2 linked regions of the Homo sapiens genome follow. The protein of the gene in region 2 interacts with the protein of the main gene of each other region in a biochemical or structural test. Each region holds a gene or a part of one and is shown on either strand. Other genes may lie near its edges.

The links.
Region 1: the proteins of LTF (region 2) and CP form a complex in vitro, tested with the Homo sapiens proteins (one study listed by BioGRID).

Annotation. Positions count from the first base shown.
Region 1 is NC_000003.12:149,180,188-149,183,941, forward strand, and holds part of CP (ceruloplasmin precursor), read right to left. Parts: intron 3,419-3,754; coding exon 3,279-3,418; intron 1,947-3,278; coding exon 1,818-1,946; intron 1-1,817. UniProt on the Homo sapiens protein: Multifunctional blue, copper-binding (6-7 atoms per molecule) glycoprotein. It has ferroxidase activity oxidizing Fe(2+) to Fe(3+) without releasing radical oxygen species. It is involved in iron transport across the cell membrane.
Region 2 is NC_000003.12:46,451,304-46,455,057, reverse strand, and holds part of LTF (lactotransferrin isoform 1 preproprotein), read left to right. Parts: intron 1-697; coding exon 698-753; intron 754-3,754. UniProt on the Homo sapiens protein: Transferrins are iron binding transport proteins which can bind two Fe(3+) ions in association with the binding of an anion, usually bicarbonate. Lactoferricin binds to the bacterial surface and is crucial for the bactericidal functions.

The sequences.
Region 1 (3,754 bases), about 100 Mb from region 2:
TAGACCTCTTGATCTCATGAGTCACCGACTTGACACAGTTATGTTTACCTCCCCCTCCAGTCCATCTCATTCTATCACACCATGTGCTGTTTTGTCACTACTCCCACATACAGGACATAACCACACCCTCGGCCTTGGCATTTTGAAGACGACCAGTTGCTTCACCCTCCTGCTTTGCCAAGGCTCTTACCCTTTTCCCATGTGCTCTAGGCTTTTCTCCAGTCTGATCTGCGTTTCCATTCACCTCAGGGCTTCCTGTGCAACTGCTCACAGGCCTCAACTTTTGGCCATGCCCACTCACCAATCCCAGCCACACTCATTTTCCATCCCATTTATTTAGACCACACCATTACATATTCATGCTATCACACTAACCTGCCAGAGTCCAACAGACATTCACTAGAGAATCAAGCAAGACAACAGAGATGGTCTCAAGTGATGTGGTAGACGTCTTACTTTTTCTTCAAGCCTCAGTCTGAGCTGTTCCTATGTCCTCACCCTTTTTCTAAGCAGAAAATTTCACTAGAATATAAAGTATTGATTCACCACCTGCACATATTACTGTCTGGCCATCTCTGCTTTTACTTATTCTCATAAGCTGCAAAATAACATTTTCTTCTCTTTTCCACACCCCTTTACAACCTGCTCTTCCACCAGTGGTCAGTGCCCAAAACCTTGGGGTCATGCTTGACTCCTCTCTTCCCTAACACTCCCTAGTGCCCATTTTCCAGCAGGTCCTTTTAGTACCACCTTTAAAATGGAACCAGAATATGATAACATCTCACCACTTCAGCCGCTTCCACCATATTCCAAATCTCGATGATGATGATGATGATGATGATTTTACCCAGATTATTGCAGTGGTCCTTAACTGACCCCAGATTCTGTCCTTGCCCCCTTAGGGTCACTTAACCACACATCACCAACAGCCCCTTAAAAGGTGTCCATCAGAACATCAGTCTTAAATCTCGAGTCTGAGGTCCTCCCTACTCCATCTGGCCCCTGCTCTCCCTGGATCTCATCTCTAGCATTCTGTCCCTTGTGTGCTTTTCTTTAGCCTCTGGCTGCCTTGCTGCTGCTCACACACACCAGGCATTGCTCCTGTCTTCGGGGCCTAGAATCAATTCGTGCACAATTACCTGAATTTCATTACTTCTCAAACTTTAGGTGTTTTCAGCAATGCCACCTCCTCAAGGAAGCCCTCCTGACCTCTCTACCTAAAATAGCACCCTTGCTACACCCTGCTAAGTTATTGAGAAATAGTATTTTCCTGGAAGCCAACTTTACAACTAATAGAAGAAAAATATGGTTCTTATTAAAGAAAATGCTCACCTATGTATATAATCTGTTCAAGATTTTACTCTATGTTTATTAAAGAAACATTTGATGATCTCCTAATATATGCCAGATACTGTACTAGATAGGGGGAATTTAGAGTTCCAAGTGGCAGCCTCTGGCCCTTAGAACCACATGTGCTAGAGACAGGCATGGGAACATCCAGCCACATATGGTGTGGTAGATGCCATTTGAGCTGTGTTCTAGCTGAGCGAGGAGACAGCATCTCTCTGATTCACGCTTGAGGATTCATAGATGTCTACTACCTTCAGGTTTTTCTCTTAAGCTCTCCTGTGGACTTTTTTTTTTAGTACAAGCATGTGCATGTACTTGCATACACACAGACACCTCCTTGCATCCCCTCTTCACAACTACCTCCCTTTTCACTTTCTTGGTCCAGACTCTCTATGATGAGAGTAATCTGTGGAAAGGCTGTACAGCCTGTTAAAATGCACCACCCCCACCCCCGCCCCCGTGAGTACCTGGTAATGTTGGAGTAACTGTAGAACTCTCTGTTTGTACCCCATGGGCATGTATTGAGTAGGGCCTTGTGGCCATGTTTTTAAAGATAATTTTGACTTTGTCTCCAACATCTGCATGAAGTTGTGGACCTGGCAAAAGTGAAGAGGAAGAGTGTCCAATCAGAAGGTCTAACTTAGTAATAAAAGCAAAGATCAGCAAAGATAACTTGTTTCTCTCCCCCATGGGTTTGTGGTATAATACTCTTGGATTTATACTGCGTCCCAGGGAATTTGGAATCAATACACTGGAAATAAAAATGGAGACCATTTGTTTATCTCTTAAGAGTTCTAGGGGAGGTTTGGCCTGAAAGTCCTTTGCAGAGTACCGGTCTAATCATGGTGGGTTGGATATCTGGCCAGGAGTCATTTATACCCCTCTCATTTCTACCCTTTATCCAATCTTAGCTTGTCTCTTGTCTGGTAGGATTTTTGTGCTCCAGCAACAATGCCATTTTGCCTTGGTGTCTTAGTCTAGGGGTTGAGGATAACCAAGCCTCAGGGGAATGCTGACAGTATGGGAACACAGTGGGGTGGGGATGGGAGTGGGGGTCCCTGCAATTGATAGTTTTAAAGAAATGTCTCAAGACCAGTGTTGCTCGAGTTCTAGACATTCTGTCTTAAAGTGAGTCCTAAAAAATTGAAGGCAGCTTTGCCCCTGCTTTGTGCGTGGTATCATTTTTTCTTTTATTTCCTGTTGTAATTAATTTCCTTTTGTATATTTCTTCTTGTAATTAATCATTTATATTTTAATTTTAAAAGTAAATAGCTGTAATTTGAGAGGAATGGGTAGGATAATGGGGATAAATTGGTTAAGAATTTTATTAGGGCCAGGTGTAGTGCCTCACGCCTGTAATCCCAGCACTTTGGAAGGCTGAGGTGGGCGGATCACTTGAGGCCAGGAGTTTGAGACCAGCCTGGCCAACATGGTGAAACCTCATCTCTACTAAAAATACAAAAATTAGCCAGGCGTGGTGGCCCATCCCTGTAGTCCCAGCTACTTGGGAGGCTAAGGTGGGAGACTCACTTGAGCACAGGAGCGGCAGGTTGCAGTGAGCTGAAATCACACCACTACACACCATCCTGGGCGACAGAGTGAGACTCTGTCAAAAAACAGAATTTCATTAGAAAATAGTTTCTGGGAACTTCACTAAAACTACAGGCATCAATTTGATAAAATATATATAATTTCATCAGTATACGGGACAATACATAGTTTCCAAGAGAAATAAGTAATATTTTACTATGTCATATTATTTAATAAACATCAGTCTTATTTCATTAGATAACTAATTTTTAAATTTTTATTTGAACAACTTTGATATATGAACCAAGAAAATGAAACCCATAGACATGAATTGACGGTTACTGCAGGTAGCATCACATCATTAACCCACACCTGATAAACTGGAGATATTAACATACCTAGAATTCCCAGATGTTCTTCTTCAGCTTTTCTCTCCACTGGAACACGGAATGTGCTATCAGTATACTGCCGATACACAACTTTCTTGTACTTTGAGCCTATGTAAAACTCTCCCTTATCTAAAAATGCATTTGAAACACTTAAAAAAAAAAACAACTAAGGTTAGTATTTGTCTTAATGAAAATGTAACTTAAGTTTTAAACTTTAAATTTTGAATAAAAATATAGTTTTTATTAGAGTAATTATAGTAGTTTTAAATCATCACTCTTCTATCCAAGTAGGAATGCATAATAAGACTTTAAAAGTCTGTGTGGTAGAAAGCATACCTAGCCATCTGAGTGCAGCCATCTGAGTCCTGGCCTCTACCCTGCCACTAGTGAAAATTTCCTCCAGCTAGTCACTGCCTATTGGAACCTCAGTTTTTTCATCCCTCAAATGAGATATTTGAACAGATCATCTCTAAGATTACTTTATA
Region 2 (3,754 bases):
CTGTGGGCCCTCCTGTTACCTCAGAGAGCCCTGAATCCAACTTGGCTGCCCTGTTGTCCTGGGTTCCTCATACTAATTTCTGCCGCCTGCCTAACCACAGCAGGACTGAAGGCATCTTGTCATGAGATGTCCAGTCCTGGCTCCTGGTTGGGCAGGACCGCTGCAGTGTCCAGGCTGATGTCCTTCTGCCCACCTGGGCCTCTCCCCGTGGCTGAAGGACAGTGAGCAATGCCTGATTCGCCCCCATCCTCTCTGCCCCCACGCGGAGGCTGAGCTCCCCCTTTTCCCATTCTGTCTGCTGGCACTAGCGTATTTTTGCAGAGGGAGGCCTCCACACTTCCCCACTGGCCAGGGCACACCTGCACACTCAGTCCTGAGGAAAACAGCCACATGAACAGTGATGCTAAGGCTTTACCCTCTTGGGTAGAGGCTTCAAAACTCTCCTTTATATAGAAAAAAGTTTTGTCCTCTTAGCCCTCAAAGCAGAAGATGGGGGCCTCTGGCTAGCACCTGAGTCATTCTTCAGTATCTACCTGGAGGGGGCCCCTACCTTCCCAGCTGGGATGCCCCAAAGCTTCAGAGCCCTGCCCTGCAGGGAGTAGAAACCCATAGATGCTGAGTGCCAGGGCTACTGTTCCACAGGGAGGGGCTGGGGAGGGCTGCCTGTGCTTACCCCTGATGGTTTCTCTTTTCACAGGTGTCTGAGAGACGGGGCTGGAGACGTGGCTTTTATCAGAGAGAGCACAGTGTTTGGTAAGAGCAGGGTAATGAGCCGTGGGTACTGACCCCTTTTATCTTACTTGATCATGACTCTGACCTTTGAGCTAATTAGATTCCTAAGTTCATGGCAGACCATTTTCAAGATTCCTACAGGGCACAGCTCTGATTTTATGATCTTTCATATTTTAAATGATCAGTTTTCTTCAAACCTCCTGTGCCTACTGCCTTTCTCTTCCCCTCATAGACACCCATGCCTAGGTGCTTGGCAATGCGTCCTCCAGTCCTCCAAGACACATGTGCTCATGCAGAACAGATTGTGCTGGTTTGTGTTTCCGGTTTCTGGGTTCATAGAGGTTTTAGTGAGCATTAGAAATCCTGCTACTTGGGTTTTCTGCTCAGCATTTTGTTTTAGAGGTTTATCGGTATTGTTGTATACATGTCTAGCTCAGGGGTCCTAACAGTTGAGGAGTGTTCCGTGGAATACATCCACCTTTTACTTCTCTGTCACCATAGTGATGGACAGAGGTTGTGCTCTCTTTTCCTCTACCACATGCAGCCACACGACTGATACCTTCACCTGTGTTCCTTACTTACGTGCTGGACAGCGTCCCTCCTGGACTTATAATAAAGCAGTTGATGAGTATGTAGAGGCTAAACACACTGCACCCAGGACTAGTGGACATAAGCTCACTACATTTCATGCAAGACCAATAGAGACAGGGCTACTATATTCCACCCAGGGCCACTAGAGAAAGTGACAGACACCCACATTCACTCAGGACCATCAGAGACACACCCCACATCCACCCAGGACCACCAGAGAAAGAGACAACACCCACATTCACCTAGGACCATCAGAGACAGACCCCGCATTCATCAGAGGCCACCAGAAACAGACCTCCACATGCACCCAGGGCCACCAGAGACAGACCCCACATGCACCCAGGATCACCAAGCTGCTGTCTGGAATGACACTCTGCAAGTGTTCTAATTTCCCCACAACTTCAGTTAGAAGTATTTTTGACTTTCATACTTTTTGTCCGAATGATGGTTGTAATGCAATAGATAGTTCGTTTTATTTTTAATTTTCATTTCTCTGACAGCTGGTGAGTTTGATCATTTCAACATATTTGCTAGCCGTTTGGGCTTCCCTTTCTTATTTTGTGACATTTGACTACTTTTTAAATTGAGTTTCACACCTTGTTTCTGCATGATTTTGATTCAAGGACAGAAGTTCCTTCTATCTAGGTATCAAACTATTGCTGATTTTAAACTTTAGTAAAACCTCTTCTCAGTCAAAAATCTGACAACGGTAGTCTCTGTTGATCAAAAATCCTTGATATTGATAAGGTCAAATCCACAAGCCTCACCTTGTTGGTTTGTAGTTTTGAGATATTTCAAAGATGCCCTTCTTCACACCCAAATCATAATTATTTCCTAAAATAAGATTTGAAGATCCCCTTCCTCATCTATTTATATGTGCTCTACCTAGAAAGTCAGATATAGATTTGGCTTTAGCATTTTATCCCCTTTACAGTGAGGCAATTTACCTTACAATAAAAAAAGTATATTTTTTCTGCCATATGTGAAGCCAATTCTACACCAAGTTTGTATATATCCAAGTGGACCAGTTTCTGAGCTATTTTATTTCATTGGTGTATTTGCATTTTTTCTGCTTTTGTTACTGTGGCTTACCAATGGGTCTTACTATCTGGTGGAGAGAAAGAGAGAGAGCCAGTGAGAGGAAGAGAGAGAGAATGAGAGAGAGCTCCCTCTCCCCTCTCACTTTATTATTCCTTTTCAAATATACTCAGCTAAAACTTCAGAATTATTTTGTTGAATTTCTGGAAAAAATCATACTTTAATTTTGATTCGAATTGTACTGAATTTAAATTGTTCCATGAAAAATCAGCATATTTATAACATTAAGTTGTCCAGTCCATGGTGATGCTAAATCTCCCCCATTTGATCACACCTCTTTTTAGTTTCTTTGATAGAACTAAAATTTTTCCTTTGTGGGTCTGATGTGTCTTTGTGGGAGGCTAATTATTAGCTACTTAATGGTTTTAGTTGCTATTGTAACATCTTATAGTCCATATTGGTTTCTATTTGGTTATTGTTAATGAGGATAACATCTGATTTTTGTAGGTTGCTCTTATAACTTGTTACTCCTCTGAGTAGTTTTATTAGTTTCTGTTGGTTTCATTGGTTTTTTGTAGATGACGATATCATCTTTTTAAATAAGAGTGTGTCTTTTTCCTTCCAGTGTTTATATCTCACATTTCTTTTGTAAATTGTGTGATCTGGATATCTAGAATTGTGCTGGCATTGTAACAGTGGGCATCCTTGCCTTGTTCCTGATTTTGCGGTGAATGTCTACATTTTCTTCTTTTAGTAAGGTTTTTGCTGTAGATTAATGGCATTTATCAAGCCAATAACTTATGGCCAGGCGTGGTGTCTCACCCCTGTAATCCCAGCACTTTGGGAGACTGAGGCGGGTGGATCACATGAGGTCAGGAGTTCGAGACCAGCCTGGCCAACATGGTGAAACCCCATCTCTATTAAAAATACAAAAATTAGCTGGGCCTGGTGGCGTGCGCTTGTGGTCCCAGCTACTTGGGAGGCTGAGGCAAGAGAATCTCTTGACTCCAGGAGATGGAGGATGCAGTGAGCTGAGATCGCACCACTGCATTCCAGGCTGGGCAACAGAGTGAGACTCCGTCTCAAAACAAACAAAAAAACTTTACCGATTCTATCTATTACTATTTTTCTGAGGCTGAAAAAAAAACCACACACAAATAGATGTTGAACACATAAACAATCGTTCTGCATCTATTAAGATGAAGACGATCTCATGGTTTTCTGCCATTAAATGCAGATTACTTTAGTTTTTTTGATGTTCAGCCATTCTTTTGTTAATGGAATACACTGGTAAACCTTCATTCCAATCTATTAGCTTTTTAAATACTCTGTGAGATTGAGTTAGTTAGTACGTTATTTACAAATTTTGCATTTATGTTCGTAAGTAAAATAA